Linked DNA regions of Homo sapiens. The protein of the gene in region 4 interacts with the protein of the main gene of each other region in a pairwise test. Each region holds a gene or a part of one and is shown on either strand. Other genes may lie near its edges. The genes, in order: ANKRD23, PKN1, RBM41 and MIPOL1.

What was found.
Region 1: the proteins of MIPOL1 (region 4) and ANKRD23 interact in binary tests that used the Homo sapiens proteins (3 or more experiments, as listed by UniProt).
Region 2: the proteins of MIPOL1 (region 4) and PKN1 interact in binary tests that used the Homo sapiens proteins (3 or more experiments, as listed by UniProt).
Region 3: the proteins of MIPOL1 (region 4) and RBM41 interact in binary tests that used the Homo sapiens proteins (3 or more experiments, as listed by UniProt).

The regions. Positions count from the first base shown.
Region 1 is NC_000002.12:96,841,010-96,848,689, forward strand, and holds the start of ANKRD23 (ankyrin repeat domain-containing protein 23), read right to left. Parts: upstream 3,013-7,680; 5' UTR 2,984-3,012; coding exon 2,957-2,983; intron 1,503-2,956; coding exon 1,356-1,502; intron 1,177-1,355; coding exon 1,051-1,176; intron 1-1,050. Other genes in the region: ANKRD39 (ankyrin repeat domain-containing protein 39), read right to left, coding at 7,292-7,435. UniProt on the Homo sapiens protein: May be involved in the energy metabolism. Could be a molecular link between myofibrillar stretch-induced signaling pathways and muscle gene expression.
Region 2 is NC_000019.10:14,428,355-14,436,306, reverse strand, and holds the start of PKN1 (serine/threonine-protein kinase N1), read right to left. Parts: upstream 3,002-7,952; 5' UTR 2,786-3,001; coding exon 2,765-2,785; intron 1-2,764. UniProt on the Homo sapiens protein: PKC-related serine/threonine-protein kinase involved in various processes such as regulation of the intermediate filaments of the actin cytoskeleton, cell migration, tumor cell invasion and transcription regulation.
Region 3 is NC_000023.11:107,066,809-107,073,828, forward strand, and holds part of RBM41 (RNA-binding protein 41), read right to left. Parts: intron 3,618-7,020; coding exon of another isoform or gene 3,382-3,617; exon of another isoform or gene 2,595-3,381; coding exon 2,447-2,594; intron 886-2,446; coding exon 719-885; 3' UTR 8-718; coding exon of another isoform or gene 1-7. UniProt on the Homo sapiens protein: May bind RNA.
Region 4 is NC_000014.9:37,193,822-37,200,956, reverse strand, and holds the start of MIPOL1 (mirror-image polydactyly gene 1 protein), read right to left. Parts: upstream 3,021-7,135; 5' UTR 2,853-3,020; intron 1-2,852.

The DNA.
Region 1 (7,680 bases), on a different chromosome or scaffold from region 4:
CACCAAGGAACACTGCTGGCTCGTACTAATGCAGTTTCTTATTCTAATCCCACGCCAGGAGATTGAATAGACTGTGTGTGTGTGAGCGTGTGTGTTATGGATTGACTTGTATCTCCCCAAGATTCGTATGAAGTACTAACCCCAGGTACCTCAGAATGTGACCTTATTTGGAAACAGAGTCACTGAGGATGTAATTAGTTAAGATGAGGTCACACCGGCGTATGGTGGGCCCCTCACCAATATGACTTGTGTTAAAGTGGGCTCTAATCCAATGTGACTGATGTCCTTATGAAAGGGGACACGTGGGCCGGATGCGGTGGCTCATGCCTGTAATCCCAGCACTTTGGGAGGCTGAGGCGGGCAGACCACAAGGACAGGAGATTGAGACCATCCTGGCTAACACGGTGAAACCCCATCTCTACTAAAAATACAAAAAAAAATTAGCCGGGCGTGGTGGCGGGTGCCTGTGGTCCCAGCTACTCGGGAGGCTGAGGCAGGAGAATGGCATGAACCCGGGAGGCAGAGCTTGCAGTAATCCGAGATCGTGCCACTGCTCTCCAGCCTGGGCAACAGAGCGAGACTCCGTCTCAAAAAAAAAAAAAAAAAAAAAAAAAAAGTTGGGGGAGACACATGGACACAGGCATGCACACAGGCAGAACGCCCAGCAAACATGAAGGCAATAGTTGGGTGATACATCTACAAGCCAAGGAACGCCAAAGATCACCAGCATCCACCAGAAGCCGGAGAGGCATGAAGGGATTCTCCCTCACCACCCTCAGAGGGAACCAGCCTCGCCAACACCTTCCTGTTAGCCTTCCAGCCCCCAGGACAGCGAGGTGACACATGCCTGCTGTTGAGGCTGTCCAGGCTGTGGGACTTTGTTATGGCAGCCCTGGCGGACACATCCGCGGGGGCTCTGGAGTGGATTTAATGGGCTCCCCAGGCACTGGCTGTGTGGTCCTGGCCTGCAGTGCCCACTCTGCCCCAAGCCCTTCCTCTGGAACTGGAGCCCTGGTGTGTGCACTGCCCTAACCCCGACCTCCCACTCACCTTAACCAGGGGCTCAGGTTTCCTGGGGGGGACTCTGTGTCTCAGTCGCTTTTTCCGTCTTTGAACCAAGTTTTCCAAGTCAGCCAGGTTATCCAGATTAAATCTGGTACTGTTAAATCTTTCAAGCTGGGGCAGAAGACAAGACCATGCCAGCCATCAGCCGCTGGTCAAGAGATCTCTCTGCCCTGCCGACAGGAGACACCAGCTGCTCAGGCTGCCCCACCAGAGTCCCTCCAGGCCTCACTGCTCAGCCGGCCTCAGGGATTAGCCACTGCCCCCAACCCCGGCCCCCGCCCCTCTCTCACTTTCTTCTTCTTCTCTTCTTCCAATTTCAGCTTCTCCCGGGCCACAGCCTCTTGGGGGCCCCTCCTCCAGTCACTAGGCCAGGCTCCAGGGTCAGGAACTCCATGTCCAAATCCCAACACTTTCCCTTCAACTCTTTCTCCACTTACCTGTAGGAACAGGATATGAGTACTGAGTTGGGAAAATTGGAGGAACCCTTAGAAAACAGAGCTGTGGAGTAGCAGGGAGCTGTCTTATAAGGGCAGATGTCACAAGGCTGGTGCCCGGGATGGGAGCCGGCCTCAAAGCTCCTGCAGTCCAGAGTGCTGGCAAGCTCCCTCACCCTGTGGGTGCTGCAGGCTCCGCAACTGTGTCATCAGCTGACACCCAGGGGGACAACGGATCCCCGCCTACCCTGCTCCTGTCAGCAGGAACACAGCTGGGGGGACATGAGGCCACAACCTATTTATACTGCTGGGCATTTGCCCAGGTAGCCTCAGGGCAGATGACACCTTAGCTTCCCCCATGTTGTTAAGATTCCTACCAGATCATACTGACTGCCACCTGACTCCAAGCTCAGAGGGACAGAGAAGTCCCCCCGGGGTAAAATTCTAAATGCCTGGGTTCAGTTCTCGGCTCCTTTTGAAGCTACATTTAAGCTCAAACACTTAAGGCAATTGCCTAAAGGAGTTGTGAAGGTTATGAGTTATTGGGACCTGTGCCTGGGGCAAAGCCTCCGTAGCAAACACCCATGCTTCCTCCCACCGGGCCCCACCTCAGGAGTTCAGGAGCTGGGGAGCACTGAGGAATCAGCCTGTTGTGGGGAAAGAACAGGGTGGAATGATAGGGTAACAGATCCTAGGACTTTCTAGTCAGGTAGAACCATATTCCTTCTAAAGAACTCTAGCAACCTAACACCTCCCTGCCATTTGCCTCCCGCCAGAGGCTGCACCAGGCTGGGGCCAGCAGCCCACAGATGGGCTTGCTGGGCCTCACACCCTCCAGGCCCCTCGTCACTCAAACCGACATCCCTAAGAGTCACTGTTTCCCTCACTGCCCAGGGAGCGAAAGAGCACCCTTCCCTATCCCCAAGGCAGCCAGGACCTCTGGCCATTTCCAGAGCAACAACTATCATGGTGCTTAAGCTGAACTACAACCACCACAGCCACACTTGCATCTTCCAAAGTAACCTGCCATTTCCTGTTCCTCTTTCACCATCACTATCCAGGGCAAAACTCACTGAACTCAAGGATTTTCATGTCTTCTTTCCCATTCGACTTCCCTCTCTTGCTCCCTAACCCCCTCACCACCTCACATGAGAACCGAGCAGACACACCAGAAAGAACCGCACGCTCAGCCGGGTGTGGGGGTACACGCCTGGAGTCCCAGCTACTTGGGAGGCCCAGGTGGGAGGATCACTTGAGCGTGGGACTTCAAGGCCAGGCTGGGCAACACAGCAAGACTCCGTTTCAAAAAATACAGATTTTTATAAAAGAACTGCATGCTTCCCTGCACCTAAGACTTGACCCTCACACCACAGAAAGAAGCTGCCAGCCCTCTCTAGCCAGCCTCCTCCTATCAAGCCGGTCCCAGGGTGCCTCCCACCTCCGTCCCACATCCTTACCAACTGCTGAATGCTGATGAAGTCCATGGTCCCCCCTGTTCCTCACACCCCCCAGTGAGAAGAGCTGAACTGCTCAGCCCTTTATAGGAGCGCCTGGAGACGGGCAGGGGTGGACAGGGAAGGACTGGCGCAGGTGCAAGCCCCTGGGCCAGATGACTCTGGGACTCTGTCACACCAACTAAAATACCAGTCTGGGAATGCAGCCCACTGGGGAAAAGAAAAGGAGCTGTTTGGAGATGAGTTGGCTGCATCCTCGGACACCCACTCCTGCACCTCTGCCATGCCCCACACCTACTCAGGGGCCATTTAACCAACACACTGCTAGCCCAGATTCGGGTGAAACGTGTTCCCCTCTCCTAAGTTTAGATGCCACTCCTGAAGAAAGCCCAGCCTGGGCCTCCATGTTGTAGGGCCGGCTGCCTGTGAACCTGAAAGCCCAGCCTAGGTGGCTGAGCAAGGAGGCTGGAAGCCTGAGGGGGTGGTCGGGAGGGGCAGGAGCGGCCAGCCTACAGCCTCAGCCCTCATGGTGGCCACGTGAGGAAACCGTGATCTCCCAACTTGCAGTTTCAAGGCTGCCCTTCCCTTCCCTGTGCTGTGGGTTTCTCGCCCCCGGGCTCCCCCGCTCCTCCCTCAGTGCTCTGAGAGCACATGGCAGCTGCCCCAGCCCCGAAGCCAAGCCTGGCGCCTGTCCTCGGGCCTCTGGAAGTCCTCCCCGCCCCTCTACAAGCCCCTACCAGACGCTCTCCAGGGACGGAGTGTGCCCCTCCAGCCACAGGAAAGGGGAGACTGATCCGCGTCAGGTCCCGGGATGGAATAGTAACCATGAAATCCAGCCGCAGAGCAATGTGTCTCAAGCCATCAGTCACCCTTCCTAATTCTCAGGAAGCCAGGCATGCCCTTCACCCAGCTGAACCTTGAACTCCGCCTTGGCCTTTGCAAGGAAATCAGCCAGTAAATAAGACCCCAAAATCGGAGCAACCTGAGAAGACATGACCAGGGTACAAGGAGGGAGAACTGTGGCCAAGGATGGCCACAGGCCCCAGATGGCTCCCCAGCTCCCAAAGAACTGGCCTCTTGGAAGGGCTTCCACATTTTCAGAGAACTCAGGAAAAGGCAGAGCTTTCTTAGAAAACTCAGTTCTTGGCCCGGCAACAGTGAGACTCCGTCTAAAAAAAAAAAAAAAAAAAAGTTTTCTTTTTTTTTTTAATTTTTTGAGACGGAATCTCGCTCTGTGGCCTGGGCTAGAGTGCAGTGGCGCGATCTCAGCTCACTGCAACCTCCACCTCCCGGGTTCAAGCAATTCTCCTGCCTCAGCCTCCCGAGTAGCTGGGATTACAGGCACCTGCCACTATGCCCAGCTAATTTTTTATATTTTTAGTAGAGACGGTGTTTCACCATGTTGGCCAGGCTGGTCCTGAACTCCTGACCTTGTGATTCACCCGCCTCAGCCTCCCAGAGTGCTGGGATTACAGGCTTGTGCTATCGCGCCCAGCTGAAAACTTAGTTCTTAGGCTAAATTTAGGGTGCTTTTTTCAGACAAAGGTGTTCCTTGCTTTTTTTTTTTTTTTTCTTTTTGAGATGGAGTTTCACTCTTGGTGCCCAGGCTGGAGTGCAATGGCGCGATCTTGGCTCACCGCAACCTCCACCTCCCCGGTTCAAGTGATTCTCCTGCCTCAGCCTCCCGAGTAGCTGGGGTTACAGGCACGTGCCATCACCCTGGCTAATTTTGTATTTTTAGTAGAGATGGGGCTTCTCCATGTTGGTCAAGCTGGTCTCAAACTCCTGACCTCAGGTGACACCCAGCCTGTTCCTTGCTTTTGGTTATGAGGAGGGAAAGAGTCATCTAAAATGAGGGCAAAGGGGCCGGGCGTGGTGGCTCACACCTGTAATCCCAGTACTTTGGGAGGCTGAGGTGGGCAGATCACCTGAGGTCAAGAGTTCGAGACCAGCCTGGCCAACATGGTGAAACCCCGTCTCTACTAAAAATATAAAAATTAGCCAGGCACCTGTAGTCCCAGCTACTTGGGAGGCTGAGGCACAAGAATCACTTGATCCCTGGAGGTAGAGGTTGTGGTGAGCCAAAATCGCACCACTGCACTCCAGCCCGATGACAGAGCGGGACTCGGTCTCAAAAAAAAAAAAAATAAAATGAGTGCAAAGAAACAAGAAAAAGTAAGACTGGCCACCACTGTCCACTCCAACTCACAAACACCCCTCAGCACGTGGCACTGGAGGAGCGGCGTTTTGCACCCCCAGGCTTCAGGGAAGTTCTCAATAGAAAACCCATTAGTTGTCTCATATGACTGGTATTAACTCTGACTTAAAAAAAAAAATCAAGCCAGAAACAGTGTGTTGAGCAAGAAAGGAAAAAAGATTCCTTATTAAAAGTTCAAACATAAACAGAAGGCTCAGGACCTCCTTGACTACCTCTCTTGCCACGTGGCCCAGGAGAAACCATGGCTGGCAGTTTAACAGCCACCCTCCTGCTTCTGCTCTGTGCATTTTGTGGATGCACATCCACGTTTTTCTTTTCTTTTGAGACAGGGTCTCACTCTGTTGCCCAGGCTGGAATGCAATGGCGCGATCTCGGCTCACTGCAACCTCCACCTCCCGGGTTCAAGCGATTCCCCTGCCTCAGCCTCCAGAGTAGCTGGGATTAGAGGCACCTGCCACCACATACGGCTAATTTTTGTATTTTTAGTAGAGACAGGGTTTTACTGTGTTAGCCAGGATGGTCTCGAACTCCTGACCTTAGGTGATCCTCCCACCTCGGCCTCCCAAAGTGCTGGGCTTACAGGCGTGAGCCACTGCTCCTGGCCTACATCCACGTATAGATCCATACATTTATACATGATCTTAGCCAAAAGGCTGAGAGGCAATCACATTCTACAGGCATGTTCTGTGTGAAGGGGGTCCCACTGTGGACACGAGCAGCAATATCCTGTCAGCACGCTGCGCTCTGCTGTGCAGCCGAGAACTTGGATCTGCAGAACTCAACCACTCCCTATCAGGGAGGAGTCGGTTCTCTCTTTTTTTTTAACATTACTCCCCATGCTCCAATGCACATATTTGTAAATGCTCCTGTAAATAAACATCTTTGTAACCATGGAAGAACATCTCTCTACATAGCTACAGAGAAATCAAATTATTGGTTCTGCTCATTTAAATTTAAATAGATACTGTCAAACTGCCATCTACAGTAGCTGTACCAATTCCCATGAATGGATATCAAGAAACAAAGACAGCACTTTGGGAGGCCGAGGCGGGTGGATCACGAGGTCAGGAGATTGAGACCATCCTGGCTAACACGGAGAAACACCGTCTCTACTAAAAATACAAAAAATTAGCCGGGCCTGGTGGTGGGTGCCTGTAGTCCCAGCTACTCGGGAGGCTGAGGCAGGAGAATGGCGTGAACCTGGGAGGCGGAGCTTGCAGTGAGCCGAGATCACGTCATTGCACTCCAGCCTGGGTGACAGAGCGAGACTGCGTCTCAAAAAAAAAAAAAAAAAAAAGAAAGAATAAAAGAAAGAGCATAAAAGAAAAAAAGGGAAAAAATTAAATGTACATATATAGAACAAAGGATCAGGATCTAGAATATCAACACTCCTATGAATCAATAAGAAGTGTTTCTAAAATCGGCATGGGTAGGCAGCTCACAGAAGACACAGGTGCTCAACCTCACTAGTAACCAGCAATGAAAAACGAAACAGATGAAACAGCACTTTTCTCCCATCGGACCGTTGCAATCAATGAAATCATGGTATGCGCAAAGTGCTGATGAGGAGCTCGGGAAGCGGGCCTCCCTCAGGCTGCTTGCCACGTGCCAGGCACTCTCTCGAGGGCTCTCCCAGTGCACACTGACCTCCTCCCACAATGACTCTGAGGCGGGCCCTATGATAACCACTCTCATTACAGAAGAGGAAATGGAGGGGCAGACAGCTAAAGTGACTTTTACCAAGGGCATTCAGCTAGAAAGCAGCTTCTCACATAGTCCCTACTTTCTTCTAATACTTACATAGTTTTGTGTTTTTATATTTAGATCTTTAATCTTGCAATTTATCTTTGGGTGTGGGATGAGGTAAGGATATAACTTTATTTTTTTCCAAATAAATAGATGTCTCATATGAACTAATTTAGAATATGATCATCTGTCCAGTCTTAAACACTTTTAGCCACACCAAATCTACTCCCTCGCTTCCACAGTGACCAGACTGGGGCTCTTCCTGGGTGGTCTGGCCTCAGTTCCCTGCCCAGCAGCATGGATGCTGACCAAGGCAGGGGCTTGGAGAACTGGTCTGTGTACCCTTTAAAGGCAGCTGGAGATAGGGTGGCGGCTCAGCTGGATAGCAGGTCCCGCAGGTCACTGTTGCAAGGCAGCAGGTCACATGCTAGCCGTGCCTTTCGGTCCCGGATGGCCTTCAGGGCTGGGCTGTGTTGCAGGAGGAGGGAGCAGATGTCCCCGTGACCCCTCTCAGCAGCCTGTGGAGAGAAAGGCTGGAATCAAAGGGCATACCCCCCCACTGGGCTCTGCTCTCTCTTGTTCCACTTTCAGTGGTTCTTCCTTCTAAAAAAGAGGCCTCTCTGGGCGCAGTGGCTCACGCCTGTAATCTCAGCACTTTGGGAGGCCAAGGCAGGCGGATCACAAGGTCAAGAGTTCAAGACCAGCCTGACATGGTGAAACCCCATCTCTACTAAAAATACAAAAATTAGCCAAGTGTGGTGGC
Region 2 (7,952 bases), on a different chromosome or scaffold from region 4:
CTGCACTCTAGCCTAGGCGACAGAGCGAGACTCCATCACAAAAAAAAAAGGAAAAGAAAAAAAGAAAGGCTGGGGGCAGTGGCTCACACCTGTAATCCCAGCACTTTGGGAGGCCTAGGCGGGCAGGTTACTTTGAGCTCAAGATTTCAAGACCAGCCTGGGCAACATGGCGAAACCCTGACTCTACTAAAAATACAAAAATTAGCCAGGCGTGGTGGTGTGCACCTGTAGTCCCAGCTACTCAGGAGGCTGGGGTGGGAGAACGGCTTGAGTCTAGGAGGCAGAGATCATGCCGCTGCACTCCAGCCTGGGTGACAGAGTGAGACCCCAGTCTCAATTTAAAAAAATAAAGAAAAAAAAATTAGCCAGGTGTGGTGGTGCATGCCTGTAGTCCTGTAGATCAGGTGTTTGAGGCTGCAGTGAACAAGAATCTCGTCACTGCATTCCAGCCTGGGTAACAGAGCGAGACCCTGTCTCTACAAAAGTAAAAGGAAATTAGCCAGGCATGTTGGTCTGTGCCTTTTGTCCCAGCTACTTGGGAGGCTGAGGCAGGAAGATCACTTGAGCCCCGGAAATTGGAAATCGAGGCTGCGGTGACATAGGATCGCACCACTGTACTCCAGCCTGGGTGACAGAGCAAGACTCTCTCCTCTAAAATAAATAAATATAAATCAGTAAATCAATCAATAAGGACACAGATTCACACCCTGAGCTGCTGACCAGGACGCTTACCAGTAACGACTTCACAGCAGCCCTGCCTGCCAAGTGCTGGCAAGGTCTCGGTCTCTCTCTCTCCCATGAACACCCTCTTAGTCCCATTTTTCCTAGGTCAGAACCGAGGCTCAGAGAGGCGAAGGCACTGGGCCCAGGACACACAGCGAGGAAGTGTCAGCGCTGGAATTTAAGCCCAGGCTCACCAAATACCACCCTCGCTCAGAAGGCCCCACCCCATCCCCAGCAGGCAGAGGGAGGACACAGCCAAGAGCGGGGCCAGCTCAACTGGGGAAGTCCAGGCAGAGAGGAGAGGTGGCCTCCCTCAGCCCCACCTCCAGCAGCTGAGGTCTGTAATGCACAGAGGGAGGGAGGCTGGGCTCCTGGGTTCTCCTCCCCTGAGTGACTCACTTCTACCCAAGGCACAGGGGTCACCTGAGGGCCAGCAAGGCAAACCCAGGACTCAGGGCCCTGGCCTGGCCTGTCCTATGGAGAACCCCTGCTCCTCCGCTGCCCACCATGGAGCGGAGACCTCAGACCCAGAGGACCTGCCTCCCATAATCCCCATCTTGCCAGAGCAGCCAGGGACCTAGACTCCCACATCCGGAGATTTCAATGCCTTGGGCGTTTCCGGAATCTGGACAGGACATCCGTTTGCAGGACACAGAACAGACAGGCACACGTTGGGACAGACAGAGGGACAGGGCAGCAGGCCCAAGCAACCATGAGAGAGGGATGACCAGGAGCGGGGAAGAGACTGGGGAGGAGATGGGAAGGGGGGACCAGGGCGTGGGTCCAGCCTCGTTGCAGGAATCACAGCCTGTCTGGGTCATGTGTGGGATGCGCCAAGCGCATGCATGCACCCGGGGATTCCTACACAGCCCTCCCTGGGCCGGGGGTAGAGGCAGGGACCCCGGCCCATCCCGGCCTTGAGGTCTGACCTTGTGTGATCGGCAACACCAGATACGCCCAGCTCCTCGGCAAGGCCGGCAGGCCATCAGCAGGACTGGGAAGGCGGGAGGGACCGGGGGTTACCGGGGAGACACAAAGGGGCCGGGGGCAGGTGCAGAAGGAGACGAGAACCCAGTTACACAACAACCACAGGACAATGAACTGGATGGTGAGGTGCTAATGGGGACACTGAGGCACAGACATTTCTCAGATTTGGGTCACTTGAACCAAAGAAGGTTGGCAGTCACCCTGGCCGTGCTTGTCACAGACGGGGAAGATGAGTCCAGGTCAGTGATCCCCACCAGGTGGCACAAGGGGAATCTGGCTGGGCGGGAGGCTGGTGCCAGTCACGTGTGTGTGTTAGCAGGGTGGGGGTGACCCAGCCATGCCCAGCCACCATGCAAAAAAGTAGGATTCTATATATGGGAGCATCCCTGGCCTGTTGACTGAGACACTCCCCACCCAGGAGAAGGTTCCACCTGACAGCCCAAGGGTGGGAGTGGGGGTCCCCATTCCCCCGACCTAATGCAGTGACTCGGGTACTTCCGCCAACAGGTGCCAATCTGGGTGGCGTCTGGAACATCATAAAGCTGTCTAGAGGCGGGGGTGGCTGGAGCTTTGTTATGCGGGGGAAGGGCACGGGCCGGGCCCAGCAGCCTCCTCCCCTCCCAGGGCACTGCGCCAGGCACGTGCCCCAGGTGGAGCGGCACCTGCCGGGTACCCAACCCTGGGGAGGGGGATGAGTTTGGGGGCGGACGAGAGGCACTGGGACGCCCAGCCAGCCACAGACACCCGAAGTAGAGCCTCCGCCGCGCCCCTTCTAGTTCTCCAGGAGAGGCCGAGTTTGAGGGTGTAGCAGGGGTTGCCTCCGGGATCGCCCCCAAACCAGCCCAGTCCACATCGCCACCTGCCGAGAAGGGGGCCTCGCTGGCTCCACAGTCCCGGCCCAGGGAGGGGGCGCCGGGCGCTCCGGAGGCCCCCGCCCTTGCCATCGTCACCCGAGTCCCGTTCCGGGGGCTGGGGGGGCTCCCCCGGCAGCGCGCGGGCGGGGTCCGCCGGCGCCGTCCGGTCGCCCCGGGACTCCAGACGCAGGTGCGCCTACCTGCACGGCGTCGCTGGCCATGTCCTCCTGCCGCCCGCCAGGGGTCCCCGCGCGGAGGGAGGGGCGGCCAGAGGAGCGCGCGTGCGCCCCGGGCGTGGCGGGGAGGGGGCGGGCGCGGCGCGACCCTCCCCGGCGCGCGGCCCGCTCCGGCCTGCTCGGCTCCCGCCTCGCCTGGCCAGGCCGCCGCGTCCCCGCGCCGCGCCCTCCGGCCCCAGCGGCCGCCGGGCCTGGTCACGTGACCCCGGAGGTCGGCGCCCGGGGAGGGGGCGGGGCCGAGGGGGGACGGGTTCCCAGAGGCCCCCGGGGCTGCGGGGTCCCGCCCGTCCGCCCCCTCGGTCTCCCGAGCCCGGAGCATCCCCATCGGCTCCCCACCTTTCCTCTTTCCGGGTCCCGAGACGACCGCACGCTGCCGAGGGGTCCCCCATTGGAGCGCGCGGGAACCCGAGGAGAACGGTTCCACGCGTTCAAGCCGAGAGCGGCGGAGGCCTTTGGGCCTCCCGGGACCCCTGAAAAAAACAAACAGAATAACCCCCCACCCCACCCTACCCCGGTGCATTTGCAAGCTCGGGACGCCTGCATCTGTGGTCCCCTATTCAAGGGCATGGAAGTTTCCCCGTTACCTGGAGACAAGCTCTGGGCGGATCTGCATTCAAATCCTAGCGCTTTACGCCTTGAGGGAGACAAACCCTTCCAGGCACCTCATCTGTGAAATGGGAATGATGCGCTCACCTCCTCGGTGTTGGTAAAATTCAATAAGACAGTGCAGGCCAAGAGCTGAGAACACACTAGACGCTCCATAAGTGTTAGCTGCTGTCACTTTTAATGTTATCGTAATTGTTTGTTTGTTGTTTTGCTATTTTTGGACGGAGTTTCGCTCTGTTGCCCATGCTGGAGTGCAGTGGCGCGATCTCGGCTCACTGCAACCTCCGCCTCCCGGATTCAAGTGATTCTTCTGCCTCAGCCTCCTGAGTAGCTGGGATTACAGGTGCCCACCACCATACCCGGCTAATTTTTGTATTTTTAGTAGAGACGGGGTTTCATCATATTGGCCAGGCTGGCCTCGAACTCCTGATCTCAGGTGATCCGCCCGCCTCGGTCTCCTAAAGTGCTGAGATTACACAGGCCTGAGCCACCGCGCCCAGCCTCTATTATCGTTATTGTTATTAAAAGAGGTTTGAATCCCAACTTGCTGTTCATCCTGGGGACCCCTGTGGCCTCTGAGTCTCAGTTTTCCCCGCTATAAAATGGGCATCGCCTTCTTTTTCGGGGCTGCTGCATGCAGATGGCGCTCCATAAATGCAGACTCGTGCCCAAGCGGAGAGTGGAGGCCTCTGCGGAATTTCTAGGGGATCTCCGGGGTCTGCAGAGCGTGCAGCTTTGTTCGTGGCCGCCGTCGGACCCTCACTCCTTCGGAAACCAGGCGAGGGAGCCAAACCTTGGTCTCCGGGGCTCCGGCAGGGAGCGCTCCCTGGCGGCGGTGCCTGCACATTGGCGCCCTTTGGGACCCGAGGAAGCGCCGTGGGCTGCGGGTACCTTGGTTACCCGTGGCTCTGCGTGGTTTCAGTCGTCCCAGAAACCAGGGCGCGATGTTTTCTCTCTTATTTTTTCCTCTGAGCAACTCTTTGGGAGATACTAACAACAGAAAGAGAGAAGGAGGAGAATTATGCTGATCCAGAACCCATCCAGCCGGGCATGGTGGCGCACGCCTGTAGTCCCAGCTACCAGGAGGCTGAGGCGGGAGGATCGCTTGAGCTCAAGAGGCCGAGAATGCATCACTGTGGGGAGAAATCATGATGCCCCTGCACTCCAGCCTGGGTGACAGAGCGAGACCCTGTCTAAAAAAAGAAAGAAAAAAAAAAACGGCTGGGTGCAGTGGCTCACCCCTGTAATCCCAGCCCTTTAGGAAGCCAAGGTGGGTGGTGGATGGATCACTGGAGGTCAGGAGTTCGAGACCAGCCTAGCCAATATGGTGAAACCCATCTCTGCTAAAAAATATAAAATTAGCTGAACGTGGTGGCGCATGCCTGTAATCCCAGCTACTCGGGTGGCTGAGGCAGGAGAATAGCTTGAACCCAAGAGGCGGAGATTGCAGTGAGCCGAGATCGTGCCATTGCACTCCAGCCTGAGCGACAGAGCAAGATTCCATCTAAAAAAAGAAAAAAGAGGGGGCCAGGTGTGGTGGCTCACGCCTGTAATCCCAGCACTTTGGGAAGCAGAGGCAGGCGGATCACGAGGTCAGGAGATTGAGACCATCCTGGCTAACATGGTGAAAGCGGCGGGCGCCTGTAGTCCCAGCTACTAGGGAGGCTGAGGCAGGAGAATGGCATGAACCCAGGAGGCGGAGCTTGCAGTGTGCCGAGATCGCGCCACTGCACTCCAGCCTGGGCGACAGAGCGAGACTCCCTCTCAAAAAAAAAAAAAAAAAGAGAAAGAAAACAACAACAACACACACACAAGCCCAGAATTCACCCACATTTCACCTTTCCACTTTGTCGCATCCAGTCCCTACCATCACTCACCTTAACCAGTAGTCACCTCTCTCCTGGTCTCCTGGTTTTGCCCTCGCCCCCACAGTCTGTTCCCACAACAGCCCAAGGGAGCAGTGAACACATGAGATGGGGTATGCCCCTCCTCTGTCTAGAACCCTCCATGGCTCCCAGCTCACTCAGGGAAAAAACTCAGGTCCTCCCCACAGCCCACGAAGCTCTGCACCATCAGTTCTTACTTCCTCCCATCTCTCCCCCTTGCTCACTCCTTCCAGCCACATGAGCCTTCTAACTGTTTCTCAAATGCTTGTTGATTGAATAAAAGAAAGAACTCTGTGGCTGGGCGCAGTGGCTCCCACCTGTAATCCCAGCAATTTAGGAGGTCAAGGGGGGTGAATCACTTGAGGCCAGGAATTCGAGACCAGCCTGGCCAACATGGTGAAACCCCATCTCTACTAAAAATTAAAAAATTAGCCAGGTGTGCTGGCGGGCATCTGTATATTCAGCTACTTGAGAGACTGAGGCAGGAGAATGGTTTGAACCTGGGAGGCGGAGGTTGCAGTGAGCCAAGATCGCACCCCTGCACACCCCCCTGGGTGATAGAGCAAGACTGTCAGAAAGAAAGAAAGAGAGAGAGAGAGAGAGAGAGAGAGAGAGAGGAAGGAAGGGAGGGAGGGGAAGGGAGAAAAAGAAAAGAGAAAAGAAAAGAACTCATGGCCAGGCATGGTGGCTCACGCCTGTCACCCCAGCACTTTGGGAGGCCCAGACGAGCAGATCACGAGGTCAGGAGATCGAGACCATCCTGTCTAACACGATGAAACCCCATCTCTACTAAAAATACAAAAAATTAGCCGGGCGTGGTGGCGGGCGCCTGTAGTCCCAGCTACTCGGGAGGCTGAGGCAGGAGAATGGCGTAAACCTGGGAGGCAGAGGTTGCAGTGAGCTGAGATCACGCCACTGCACTCCAGCCTGGGGGACAGAGCGAGACTCCAGCCTGGGGGACAGAGCGAGACTCCCTCTCAAAAAAAAAAAAAAAAAAAAAACAAAAAAAAACTCTGCAAGCTAGTTCTTTCATATTTATTTATTTATTTGTTTGTTTGTTTGTTTAGACAGAATTTCGCTCTCGTTGCCCAGGCTGAAGTGTGATGGCACGATCTCAACTGAACGCAACCTCTGCCTCCCTGATTCAAGCAATTCCCAGCCTTAGCCTCCTGAGTAGCTGGAATTACAGGCATGTACCACCACACCCGGCTAATTTTGTATTTTTAGCAGACATGGGGTTTCTCTACATTGGGCAGGCTGGTCTCGAACTCCTGACCTCAGGTGATCTGCCCACCTTGGCCTCCCAGAGTGCTGGGATTACAGGTGTGAGCCACCGCGCCCAGCCTGATATTTATTTATTTAGAGACAGGGTCTCACTCTGTCACTCAGGCTGGGGTGCAGTGGCGCCATCGCAGCTCACTGCAGCTTCCACCTTGCAGGTTTAAACGATCCTCCTGCCTCAGCCTCCCAGGTAGCTGGGACCACAGGTGTGCACCACCATGTCTGGCTAGTTTTTTCAAAAAATTTTTTTGTGTGTGTGTAGATACTGGATCTCGTAATATTGCCCAATCTGGTCTTGAACTCCTGGGCTCAAGCAATTCTTCTGCATTGGCCTCCTGAAATGCTGGGATTACAGGCATGAGCCATCAAGCTTGGCCCAAACTAGTTCTTTTGCTCCAGTTTTGCAGGTGAGTAAGCTGAGAAGTCCCTTACCCCAATCATCAAGCCAGGATGTCTATGGCCCTTTCCCTGAGAAACGAAGTAGCTCCCTCTAATTCTCCAGCCCACCCATTCTACAGATGAGGAGGACAAGGCAGAGTGAGGTTTCATGGGGGCCGAAGGATTGGGTTGTCTGGAACCACCTTGCACAGGGATGGGCCCTCCCTCCCCAACCTGTGAGGTCCCAGGCTGCCTCCCCAGATGGAGCTGGGGAAACCAGCCAAATTCTCGCTCCACCCTTCAGGCATTCATTTACTCAGTGAATATTTACAGAGACCCACTGGGGAATTTGGTGGCACTGGAGATAAAGTTGCAGTTCAGGCCTTTTTTTTTTTTTTGGAGACAAAGTCTCATTCTGTCACCCAGGCTAGAGTGCAGTGGGTGAGATCACAGCTCACTGCAGCGCAGCCTCAACCTCCCAGGTTCAAGTCATCCTCCCACCTCAGCCCCTTGAGTAGCTGGGACTGCAGGCATGCACTACCATGCCCAGCTAATTCTTTTTTTTTTTTTTTTTTTTTTTTTTTTGCAGAGATGAAGTCTCACTGTGTTGCCCAGGATGGTCTTGAACTCCTGGCCTCAAGTGATCCTCCCGCCTCGGCCTCCCAAACTGCTGGGATTACAGTTATGAGCCACCACGTCCAGCCACACTTTGTTTGCTAAAAGGGGAGACGTGGCCAGGTGTGGTGGCTCAAGCCTGTAATCCCAGCACTTTGGGAGGCCGAGGTGGGTGGATCACCTGAGATCAGGAGTTTGAGACCAGCCTGGCCAACATGGTGAAACCCCATCTGTACTAAAAATACAAAAAAAATTAGCTGGGTGTGGTGGTGAGTGCCTGTAGTCCCAGCTACTCAGGAGGCTAAGGCAGGAGAATCGCTTGAATCCGGGAGGTGGAGGTTGCAGCAAGCCAAGATTGCACCATTGCACTCCAGCCTGGGCAACAA
Region 3 (7,020 bases), on a different chromosome or scaffold from region 4:
CATATGCCTAATATTTAACATATATTAGACACTTAATCAATGTTTATTGCTATGAATTCAATGATACTCAATGGTTGCTAGCTTAAATGGCTGTGAGAACACCAACATTTTGATCTAAAATATTTCACTAGAAAAATATATAGCTTTTTGAAGACTGATAACTTGTGGAGGAAGCATTCATTAAATAAGTCAACTGACTTATGAAACTACCTACTATTACTGCTGATAGTTCTGACTTAATAGCATTTGTTGATGCTTAGGCCTGGGGGTCCTACTCTTTTATTTACTAGGTGGATGAAATATGGCAAATGGGCTCTAGTAAAGAAATATTTCAACATTTAATTAGTTTTTTATTTCTGTGTATACGAAGCAGTCTAAGAAAGAATGTTATCTCTAGAGACAAATATTGAGGACCCCAGAAAAATTATAAAGATTTTTAAAAATCCTTAGGAATAATCCGTTGTAATTCATCCTGAGAAAATAATACTCTTTGCACTTTACCCTTCATACTCAGCATATCATCTGTCCTATATAGTCTTCAATTATATAATAGAAAATGTTTTCTACCAGTTCTCTCCAAAAGCTGAAATTACTTTTTTCCCCTCCCTCAGTTAGTTTTTCCTCTTCAACTCCAAACAAACTGGTGTCTATACATAAATCCTAGATCCAAGATTCCAATTCAAGAAAGACCATCCAGGACCCACAATTTATATATATTCTAGCTACCACTAATTTCTGTAGTGCTACCTGTAGCACATGATATGAGAGAAGTCGCTTGGAGATTTGACCGTTGCTTTTTGTTCTTTCCAAACTCTATCACCAATATTTTCCCATGTAGTTTGTATCCATTTACTAGATGCAATGCTTGCCATGCTATCTCCTTATCTAAAAGAGAAAGAAAAAATTTCAATTTACATAGGACTTAATAATTCAATTCTATTCCAGGTTTAGTTTAGATTATTTTGCCTTGGAGTTAAATGTAAGCTATAAGGCCATATAGTCATTTGATTTGATCATTTTTTCTATAATCTCCCATTTGCATTATTAAGCAAAATTAAATTAATGGCAAAAATAATAACAATAAAAACTCAAAATCGGTGTTTGAGGGTGTCTCCTAATTCAAAGAAACAAGTAGAGAAACAAAGACATAGGCAGCGTGCTAAAGAAGTCTAAGCTATTAGTAATTATACACAAGTCTCTATCTTAGGTAACAGATTATAGGTATTATTAGAATCAATCATTTTCAAAATGAGTAACACAAAAGAAGTTATCATGTTATCAAGGGCACTTTGCCACTTTTTTTTCAGTGGGAGAGTGGTTCTGGGCCACCTTATTGGGATAAATAAGTATAAGAACACTTGTAGGCATATTGAAGGTTGAAATGTGAGAATATATACTACATGCCAGGAGTATTCAACTTATGGGTCTAAGAGCCTGGATGTAAGAAATAAGGAAGGGATGATTTGTGGCCAGGAGTTTGTGGAATCCTAAGTAGACAAGTAGACTAAACCAATTTTGTTTCATATATATAAGTACTACAAATTTTTTTAAGTGTATAGCTTTCAAGATTAGTAAAACAGCTACACATTTTAAAGTACTTGCTTTAAAAAGCCTTTTTATTATGTATTTTTTCAACTAATACATCGTATTATGTGGGGCACCCATAAACGGTTTTTTAAATTTAAAAGGGGTTCTTACACTTGAAAAGACTGAAAACCACTGGTATAGCGGATTTAAAAACCTTCAGTATGATAGGAAAGATGATACAAGACTGTATGAAAACAATGGAGGGGAGTTTGGCAGTATTCATGTGTAAAACCACTTGCCCACATATAGATTAATAGGCTATTTAGAAATGACGATACTTTAGGGACAATGAAAGGTACAGATCCTACAAAGCCTTCCCCCAAAACAACATATTATCTGGTCTGTCATAGAAACTGAAATTTGCATATTATTCTTCCAGTTGGATTAGAAGCTATGCATTAATTAATATGCAAATAATATTTAGAAGACTGTATCATCATCTACTAATTATGAATTAGTAATAAATTAGTATATTAGCTTGCTCTCACTTAGTCCTAAAGGAACAGCGCATAAGCCAAGTACATGTGTTCTGATCAGAATACTAATACATTAATTAATGAGTAATCTAATTATAACTTGGACTAGAAATACTATTGTCAGTGAAGGGAGTACAGATTTTGGTAGGGTAAGAAGGAAGTACCAAGACTGGGAAAAACTGAGGACACTGGGGTAGTGTGGCCATGCACTGTCAATGGAGGAGAGGAAACAGAAAGAAACACTGAAAACATATTTTTCGTTCATTGTCTTGTTCTCACATGCTGTGGAGAAATCAAAGGACTATATCTAAATTAGAGAGGTTATAGGTAATCTCTAGCGAACTGAGGGGCAACTGAGTAATCATCTGGATGAAACTACTTACTGGGAAAGGTGATAAAAGCCTGGCCCCTCATTCGTCCAGTCATCATTCGGAATTGAATTGGAGGTCCTTTTTTCTCCTGGAACCGAGCGAACAATGACACAAGATCTCTTTCAGTCACCCGAGGGCTAAGGTTCTTCAGGTATAATACCTAAAACAAATTGAGGATCAACCAAAATATCATATAAAGGAGGTAAGGCACTCTTTGTTTTTTTCTTTTTGAGACAAAGTCTCACTCTGTCACCCAGGCTGGAGTGCAGTGGCGCAATCTCTGCTCACTGCAACCTTGGCCTCCCAGGCTCAAGTGATTCTCATGCCTCAGCCTCCCGAGTAGCTGGGATTACAGTCATGTGCCACCACACCTGGCTAATTTTTGTATTTTTAGTAGACGTGGGGTTTCACCATGTTGTCCAGGCTGGTCTTGAACTCCCAAACTCAGGTGATCCACCCGCCTTGGCCTCCCAAAATGCTGGGATTACAGGCGTGAGACACCATGCTCAGCCGTAAGAAAACTCTTTCATTATGATTAGAATTAGTTTCACATAAAAATGGTGGATTGAACACATTCATTTAATTTCATTCCATCCAGAAAACTCTCTAAAACTATAGGCACTTAAAAAAAAAAAAAAAAAAACACAAATCAACAAGGTCAGGAGGAACAAGAAAAGGAGACAACAGCAATAATAATCTGGAAGATGAAAAATAATTGGATGAGCAGGAACCAACTCAGCACACTGAAGAAAGCTGAATTTTAAACTGGTAGTGGAGAGAGCCAAGAACACACCTGTCACCACTTAAGAATCCTTAAATAGTTCAGGAACTGATAATTTCACTTACCTTCAGAAATAAATGTGAAGGGATGGGGTTAAAATAAGGCAAATCAGTTGAAGGCTGTCTAAAAGCCAATATGATTTTTAAATACCCTCCCTCACAATATGCTATGGGGTAAAAGATAACTTGCCAATCCTGGTAGAAAACTTGAGGCTCATTGTCAGAAGATGGGGAATGCCATACATGGCTGAAGATGTGAACACTGTTTCTGAAAGCAAGGAAACTAAGAGAATACTAAATGTTGAGGTCCTCCCAGTCCTTTTCTGCCATTTGGCTCCTAGAACGCTGGTAGTACCCTCGTAAGAAAGATTTTGGAAGTCTTCTCTGGGAAAACTGGTAAGTCCTAGGAGGAAAGATATAAAAATACTGACTTGGGATGAGGAATTTCTCTAACAAATGACCCAGCCAGACCACTTTAAAGTGAAGCTCAAAGTCAACAAGTGCCATTTGTGTGCTCAGAGATTCCAATCTGCTTTTTAGTTCCTACTTATAAAGTTGGGCATGGATTATCAGGCATCTTAGGAACTCCTCTAATGTGAAAGAGAGAACACAACAAACATAAAGAAAAGAAAGGAAATAGGAAAAAACTTCAACAAACCATAACTAATATCCTCAGGAAAATAAGAGAAATTATTCTACCTATTAGGCGGCACGGGAGGGTAGGTGCGGTGGCTCACTCCTGTAATCCCAGTGCTTTGGGAGGCTGAGATGAGAGGATCGCTTGAGTCCAGGAGTTTGAGATCAGTCTGGGCAACACAGTGAGACCCTGTCTCTGCAAAAGAGACAGGGTGGCATGTGCTACTTGTGAGCAAACAGCATGCACCACCACAACTGGCCAATTTTACAAGTCCCAGCTATTTGGGAGGCTGAGGCAGGAGGATTACTGGAGCTCAGGAGTTTGAGGCTGTAGTGAACTATGATCACACTACACCACCACACTCCAGCCTGGGCAACAGAGTGAGACCCTGTCTCAAAAAAAAAAAAAAATTCAACAGAACAAAAATGAGCTCTTATATGTGATTGAACGTAAGATGTTATCAGCTTAAAACAGATTGTTTTACCATGCCCTATACCTATAAAAGATAAACAGAGAAAAATGGGAAAGATATCAAAGTATATCACTACAAAAAAAAAAAAAAACCCAATGAACCACAAAGGAAGACGGCAGAGAGGGAGAGACAAAAGAGCTACAACAGAGACAGAAAACAATTAACAAATGGCAATAGTAAGTCCTTTGCTAGCAATAATTACATTAAATATTAATAAACTCCCCAAGAGACAGAGTACCTGAATGGATAAACAAAATCCAACTATATGCTAGCTATTCTATGAGGCCAGGATTACCCTGAGACCAACCTAGACAAAAACATTATAAGAAAAATACAGACCAATATCCTTAATAAACAGATGTAAAAATCCTCAACAAAATATTACCAAACCAAATTCAACAGCACATTAAAAAGCTCATACACCTTGACTAAGGGAGATTTATCCCTGGGATGCAAGGATGATTCAACATACAAAAATTGATCAATGTAATACAACACATTAACAGAACAAAATATAAAAATTACATGATTATCTCAACAGTTGCAGACAAAGCATTTGACAAAATTCAACACTGTTTCATGATGAAGACACTCAACTACTAATAGAAGGAATTTACCTCAACATAATAAAGGCCATATATGTAAAGTCCACAGCTATAATATTCAGTATTAAAAAACTGAAAGCTTTTCCTCTAAGATCAGGAACAAGGCATGGATACCTACTCTCACTTCTATTCAACATAGTACTGGAAGTTCTAGCCATAGCAAATAGGCAAGAAACAGAAATAAAATGCATCCAAATCAGAAAGAAAGAAGTAAAATTATCTCTGTTCACAGTTGAAATGATCATCCATGTAGAAAACGCTAAAGACTCAACAACAACAAAAAATTAGACATCAGTAGAATGGGGAAAAGCTGAAAGCTTTTCCTCTAAGAACTGGCAAAAGACAACAATGCTCACTCTCACCACTCTTATTCAACACAGTAGTGAAAGTCTTAGCCAGAGCAATTAGACAAAGGAAAGACATAAAAGGCATCCAAAGCAAAAAGGAGGAAGTCAAATTGTCCCTGTTTGCAGACAACATGATCTTATATAGAGAAAAACCTAAAAAAAAACCTGAAAGAGTCTACCAAAAAGCCCTTAGAACAGATACACAAATTCCATACAGTTGCAGGATACAAAATCAACACACAAAAATCAGTAGCGTTTCTACACACGAACAGCAAACTAGCTGAAAAAGAAATCAAGAAAGCAATCTCATTTACAATAGCTACAAAAAGCAAAATAAAATACCTAGAAATAAATTAACCAAGGAGGTAAAAGGCCTCTACAAGAAAAACTACAAAACACTGATGAAAGAAAAGTTTAGAGGATACAAACAGAAAGATATTCCATGCTCATGGACTGAAAGAACATTGTTAAAATGACCATACTATCCAAAGCAACCTACAGAATTAATGCAATCCCTATCAAAATACCAATGACACTCTTCATAGAAAAAGAAAAAAAATCTTAAAATTTTTATGAAACCACAAAAGACTCTGAAGCCACAGCAATCCTGAACAAAAATAACAAAGCTGGAGGAACTGCACTACCAGACTTCAAAATGTACTACAAAACTGTAGTAACCAAAACAGCATGGTACTGACATAAAAAGAGACACATGTAACTGTGGAACAGAATAGGGAACTCAGAAACTGACCCATGTATCTACAGCCAACTAATATTTTAATAAAGACACCAAGAACATCAGTTGGGAAAAGACAGTCTCGTCAATAAGTGGTGCTGAGAAAACTGGATACCTATATGCATGAAGAATGAAACCAGACCCCCATCTCTCATCCTATACAAAAATCAACTCAAAACAGATCAAAGACCTAAACGTAAGACCGGAAACTAAAAAACTACTAGGAAAAAACATAGGGGAAACATTTCAGGACACTGGTCTGGGAAAAGATTTCATGAATAAGACCTCAAAAGCACAGGCAACGAAAGCAAAAATAAACAAACGGGATTATATTAAACTAAAATCTTCTGCACATCAAAGGAAACAACAGAGTGAAAAGACGAACTACAGAATGGGAGAAAATATTTGCAAACTACTCACCCAACAGGGGATTAATATCCAGACTATACAAGGAATTCAACATCTTAACAGCATCAAAACAAACAACCTGATTTAAAAATGGGCAAATGATCTAAACAGCTATTTCTCTAAAGAAGACATACAAATTGCCAACAAATATATGAAAAAATACTCAACATCACTAATCATCAGGAAAATGCAAATCAAAACCACAATGAGGCATCATCTCATTCCAGTTAGGATGGCTACTACTGGAAAGACAAAAGTTAACAAATGCTGGTGAGGATGTGGAGAAAAGCAAATTATTACAGACTGTTGGTGGGACTGTAAACTTTTACAGCCACTATGGGAAACAGTACGGAGGTTCCTCAACAAACTACAAATAGAACTACCATACGATCCAGCAATCCCACTACTGAGAATTTATCCAAAGGAAAGGAAATCAGTATATTGAAAAGACAATGGCATTCTCATATTTATTGCAGCACTATTCACAACAGCCAAGATATGAAGTTAACCTAGGTGCCCAACGATGTGGTATATATACACAGTGGAATACTATTCAGCCATAAAAATATTGAAATCCTGTTATTCAGAGCAATGTGGATGG
Region 4 (7,135 bases):
CACTCCAGCCTGGGTGACAGAGGTACACCTTGTCTCAAAAAAAAAAAAAAAAAAAATACACACACACACACACACACACACACACACACACACACACACACACACATAGATAGATATAGTATTATGGATCTATATTTCTCTAATATAGCCCATCTCAGTTACTGATTTCACATCCAACCAATTGGCAAAAAATTGAACAAACATTTTTCAATAGAGCAGGGGTTAGTACGCTATGGCCCACAACTCAAATCCAGCCAGAGGACTGTGTTAAAAAAAAAAAAAAAAAAAAAAACTAACTGGGAAACCATTAGGTTGAGACAGCTCCAGCACTTTGGGTTCCTATGTAAACAAACCAAAACCCAACTCAATGTAAACAGTAAAACTAAACTTGAGTTTAATCAATCAGAAACCACCAAACAACTTCTAACTAGAGACATTCCACTGTTACCAATCAAATATTTTCTGTTTCCATAAACACCTTATAAAAGTTTTCCCCTCACACCCTCTTGGTGGAGTCTTGAATAACTTGTGGTCTGGTGATACCCAATTTATGAAATTGCTGAATGCTCATATAAACTCTAAAATTTCCATGTGCCTAAAGTTATCTTTTAACAACTGTTTTTGTATAACCCATGAGCTAAGAATTGTTTTTACATATTTAAAGGGTTGGGAACAAAGTAAAGAGGAAAAAAACAGAAAAGAATGTGTAACAGAGACTGTACAGCCTGTACAACCTAAAATACAGGTAGTCCGAGCTTCACACATTACTTGGTTAGCTGAAACTCTACAAAGCGAGGGCTGCCTACACTTATTGTCTGGTCCCTTACAGAAATAGAGGATATCCAAATGCCAGTAAACACATGAATATGTGTTCAATACCATCAGTCATTAGGGAAATTATGGGAAAACCCCAATGTTATGTCACTATATTCCTACTAGAATGGCTAAAATGAAAAAGACAGTGTGAAATGTTGCAAGCATTTGGAGGAACCAGAATTCTCAAGCTGCCACTGAAGTATAAATTGACACAATATGAAAAACTTTTCAGTAGTGTATACCACAAACACACATCTGCCTATCCTGTAACACAGTAATTTTCTAGTAGGCATATACGCAATAAAAATGTACATATGGCCAGGCGCGATGGTTCACACCTGTAATCCCAGCACTCTGGGATGCTGAGGCAGGTGGATCAGCTGAGGTCAGGAGTTTGAGACCAGCCTGACCAACAAGGTGAAACCCCGTCTTTACTAAAAATACAAAACTTAGCCAGGCGTGGTGGTAGGCACCTGTAGTCCCAGCTACTCGGGAGGCTGAGACAGGAGAATTGCTTGATCCCGGGAGGCGGAGGTTGCAGTAAGCCGAGATCGCGCCACTGCACTCCAGCCTTGGCGGCAGAGCGAGACTCCATCTCAAAAAAAAGAAGAAAAAAAAAAGTATACATAATTTCATCAAAATATTTCTAAAAATCTTTATAGCAGCCCTATTGGTAATAGCCAAAAACTAGAAATACTATACATACAGCATGAGAATAACAAACTGCTACATAACTTGAATAAATCTCACAAATAAAATATTGAGCAAAAATCAGAAACTAAGGACTAAATACCATATTACTCCATTTATATAAAGTAAATAATAGGTGAAATTCATTGATAATGTTGGAAGTCCAGATAATGATTACCTTTGGAACCATGAAGTGGGGCTTCCGGGATGCAATAATGCTCTTTCCTGATCTAGATACTGGATACATGGGTATTTACACTTTGTGAAAATTCACCGAGCTGTACACTTACGATTCATGCACTTTTCTGTATGTCTTTATACTTTAAATATTAACGCAATAAAAATATCTCTATAAACTCTACTCCTTTGAAGGAAAATTGTATACATCTCCCATTCATTTTGCTGATTGCCATCATTACCTCCCATCAATGACATGTCTTGATTCCTATTCCTCACATTAAAAATTAAACTGTTTTAATTAATTTTATTGGCATACGATTGCATAGAATGATTATGTAATTGTCATTTTAGATGAACTCCATACCAGATCACAAGGAAAAACTTTGAAACGCCAATAATTTGTGATAGTATATTCAAGTTATCTGGGGAAGAAAAGAACACCTCCTTGAAATGTAGTTTTGTTTGGCCCTTTGTTTTGGCTTATTTCTATCTACTACCACTGTGATTTAACCTGCATAAAATGCTCAAAGGAGCTTTTCCAAACGCGTGTGTTTGTGGAAAGTTGTTCCTTTCTACCATCCTTGTCTAATAATGCGGCTGTCTTGTTCCCTCCATCCATAGAGCTTAAAATGCTTCCCAAACGTTGCACCAGGTCCAGGGACATTGTGAATCAAAAAAGAAAAAAAAAAATTCTAACAGTATCTTTTTACAGCATGGCTTAGCGCGCTTAAAGAAGCCCCTCATTCTTCGCCCACACTTCCACGTGTGAGAAATGAAATATAAAACGACTCTCTCATGGGCACAGAGTCGATCAGAGGTTGAGCGAGGACTGGAACCTTCTGACTAACCGCGACTTAAGGGGAAAAAAACAAAAAAAATACACCCTTGAATAAATGCTCAGCTGCTCAGGTCCAGTATTAGGAAACTGGAGACAATACCAAAACCATACCCAGAAAGAGCTGTCTGCCACCTGAGGACCCCACGACACTGACCTTCGAGAGAGCCCCATCACTCCCGGCCACGCGGGGTCAGCATTCACTAAGTACAGATTCCGCGGGGCCCCTTCTCCTTCTCCAAGGAAAAGTCTGCGGCCGAAAACTCCAGGGCTGATCTGTGCCCACCACTATCATTCTCCGTCGCCCAAACCTCCCTGCCCAACCGTTTACCTGAGATGCGCCTGGCATAGACCGGGGAGTCGACACTGCGCGCTTGCCGAGTTTCTCAGGCCGAGTGCGCAGCCACCGCGTCAGCCAATCGCCACTGGCTCAGAGCCTCCTGGCTCGAGACTCACCCACAGACGATCCGGCGGAGGAGCGGGGCGGCGCGTGGGGCCTACGGGGCGGCGGCGCGCCGCAGGGGAGAGCGCAAGCGGCGAGCACCGGGCATGCGCGTGCCGCGCTGCCGGGCCGCGAGGCGGGGCCTCCAGGAGAAAGAGAGAGCTTGGGAAGAAGGCCCGGGAGGAGTTTGGAGAGAAAGTAGTCGAACTTAGTCTGCTGCGGTGGTTGCCCTAACGGGATGCTTATGGTTGTCGAATCCAAGACGACGAGCGCAGAACGCTCTTTCTCTTCTGAAAGAGCAAAACGTTGTCTGGACAAAACCTAATAGGATTAGAAGAGGGAGAACGCGGAACTAAAAACGGTGTCTTGTGGCCTCATACTTGGCCTCGTCGAGTTTTCCCAAGACCTGTCGAAATTGTGCTTTCCTTCTTTGTGTGTGGTTTGGGATGAGAGGTGGGAGGGACGTGTTTCGAAGCGGCGGTCAAGTGAAAATGGCACCAGATCGGGCTCCGGTTGAGTGAGCAAAAGTACTATCTAGATCCTGGCCAAAGAACGTTTCACACTAAAACCTTGGAGCTGGTGACTTTTTTTTTTTTTTTTTTTTTTGACTGAAGTGCTGGATGAGATTACGATATGTGAATCCTCTAAGAAAAAATGTTAAACCTTACAGAATTTAAAAATGTCCAAAGTTTTCAATTGGCCTACCTCCGTGAACTAAGAATGGTATAATTAACTGCTAGTAATTTAAATTTGGGTTTTTTGTTCCATAGTTCAGAATTGGTTTTATAAATGTCACTTTAACTCCTGTTACTCATGATTCCTTCAGACACCAAATACTTAGTGACCACATACCATGTGCCAGGTACTCTTCTGGGTGCTGAGTAATAAGCAATAATATTTTTTAATACACCCCAGAGAATAGGCATAATATGAGGTGCTGACGGGTTCCTAAATTTGTGGTTAAAGTTAATGAAAGGAACTTATCCTTTAGTAAGTGTACAAAAGAGAGTTTAAAAAACTGAAAAAGGCCGGGCGCGGTGGCTTACGCCTGTAGTCCCAACACTTTGGAAGGCTGAGGCAGTGGGATCGCTTGAGCCCAGGAGTTCGAGACCAGCCTGGACAACATGGCGAGACCTTGACTTTATTAAAAATCAAAAAAATTAGCTGGGCATGATGGTGCATACCCGTAGTCCCAGCTACTAGGGAGGATGAGGTGGGAGAATCGCTTGAGCCCCAGAGGTGGAGACTGAAATAAGCTACGATGGCTGGCGCCACTGCACCCCAGCCTGGGGGACAGAGCATGACGCTGTGAAAACTAACAAAATGGAAAAGTTGGACGTAGATTAACTTGGAACAACAGAGGTTATAATATTCACCAAATTTTCGTTATGTATGCTGTAATGAACAGTGTTCTCAAGAAGTTTGTTACAGATTCAGCTTTGAAATGCTTTTTTCTTTTTTGCTTTACTTCAGTCAGGATTTGAATCATATTTATGAACATAAAGTACCATAAAAATCTATGAGACAAAAACAAAGAGTGTACAGTTTATCAGAGCAAATACTCCAATCAGGAAGTATATAGCTTGTGCAAAGGCTTAGGGCCAAATCAAATTATGTGTAAAACAAAGGAAAAAGTTGATTTTCCTGGCTAGGAAATAATAAATAAAACAGGATAGTGACTACCACAATGAGAACATTCAAACCATGTAATGAATTAGTAGAATAAATTTAGAGAAAAATTATAATATTTTTCATTGAGTAAAGTTCATTTCCTCCTTTTTTTAAAGCCCATTATCTGGGTGCTTACAGTCTCTGGCATAAAGAGAAACCTCATATTTTCTTTCCTTTTAGTAAGCTGATTTTCTCTCTCTCTCTCTCTGTTTTATGCAGTGAGTTCAAACATTAGGACTAATTCTCCCTATTCTTTTTCCTTTTTCCCTAACATACCTGAAGTAACTCATTAATGTTCTTTCCCTAAACTTTTGATACCACAACAGGTAAGTTTTCCCCTACTCCCCTCCACCACCACCATAACCAACATATCCATTTCTTCATTTTCTATTGTTCTAACAGTTGCCTGTCTATAAGAAATGAAAGAGATAAATTAGAGCTTTTTTCTTTTCTCAAAATGATTATCAAAGATATTGTCTATGTCCTCATACCTCATACAAGCTGGACTTTTACAGAAATATGGATGAAGATGAGAAGAAGAAAATGAACCACTCTTTCGTTACAGGGAGAAAAAGAATGTCATATTATTAATATTATCAAGTCTGTTAATGTCAGATCATTAATATTCTCAAGTCTATAAATATTAGGCTTCTGCAGTGTGTCACACACTGATCAGTTCTGCAAATAAAATAATGAATAACAATTAGGCACACAAGTAGCTGAGAATACCATATGTATTAATCAGGGTTCTCCAGAGAAACAGAACAAACAGGATATGTGTGTATACACAGAGACTACATAGAGAGAGGGACAGTGATTTATTGTAAGGAAATGGCTCATGCAGTTGTGGACTTTTAGTGAGTCCAAAATCTGAGGGAAGAGGCGGGCAAGCCTCAGAAAAGAATTGTAGTTGGACATACATGGAATGTAATCTGTTGTATTCAAAGTCTGGTGATTTAAATGGTAATCTCATCAAAAAAACACCTTCACAGAAGCATCCAGGATAACGTTTCACCAAATATCTGTGCACCATGGCCCAGCCAAGTTGACAAAATTAACCATCACACTGTGTAAACTGAGAAATGGCTTTGGGAGAGGGGAGTTCAGGGGATGAGGAAGACAGAGTCAGGAAAATCTGAAGGAGATAATGCCTCCTGTAGTATGAATAAGACTTAGCAAGGTGAAGAGGTGAGGGTGGAGGTGCAGAGAAAACAGAATTCCTTATAAAGGAATCAATATGGGAGTGAGATACTGTAAGGAGCTATAAGCAATTTAATATCACAGTATAAAATTTAACATGGAAAGTGGTGGGAAATGAAGTTGGAGAGATTATGAAAGGTCTTTTTTAAAAATAGAGTTGGGGACTCACTATGTTGCTGGGGCTGGTATCAAAGTCCTGGCCTCAAGCAGTCCTCCCACTTTGGCCTCCCAAAGTGCTCGGATTACATGCATGAGTCACCATGCCAGGCAATATAAATGATCTCCTAATTAAGTACCTTGGACTTGATTCTATAGTCAATGAATTTTGAAAGTTAAAACAGGAGTGATGAGATTAGATTTACACTTTCATTCATCAATTTAGAAATACGTTTCAGAATCAAAATTCTCAAGTTTGCAAGACTAGTTAATCTAATTGAAAAACGATAAAAAGGCTGGGCTCTGTGGCTCATGCCTGTAACCCCAGCACTTTGGGAGGCTGAGGTGGGTGGATCACTTGAGGCTAGGAGTTGGAGACCACCCTATCCAACATGGTGGGACCTCCCCCCACCGTCTCTACTAAAAATACAAAAAATAGCCAGGCATGGTGGCACATGTCTGTAATCCCAGCTACTCAGGAAGCTGAAGCATGAGAATCACTTGAACCAGGAGGTGGAGGTTGCAGTGAGCTGAGATTGTACCACTGCACTCTAGCCTGGGTGACAGAGTTAGACCCTGTCTCAAAAAATAAATAAATAAATAAATAAATAATAAAATGTATGTGGTAAAGCACGATAGATGGAAAAGGGTAGCTTGAAGAAGTAGGAAATAGTTTGCAAAATCTGGTAAATAACTAGTTGAGAAAGAGGAAAGTGTTGATGGTATTAAAGAAATTGGTGAATAAGTAAGTTCAGTTTTGATAGAATGAGTTTGAATTGCTAGGGAAGCATCTTAGAGTAGCTTTCCAGCAGTCATATGCAAGGAAGCATTCTAGACTGGGCTAGACATGAGATTAATGAACATAGATATGATGGATAAAGCTATTTTTTAAATTTTCAAGTCAGTCTCATAGCACTTTGCTTGACTACAGTAATCCTTTTAAAGGATATGAGGATCCTTTAGCTACTACCTGTCTAAAGGATCATGATTCATTTTTTAATAGGCTTTTTTCATACACTTTAAGTTCTAGGGTACATGTGCACAACGTACAGATTGGTTACATCGGTATACATGTGCCATGTTGGTTTGCTGCACCCATCAACTTGTCATTAATATTAGGTATTTCTCCTAATGCTATCCCTCCC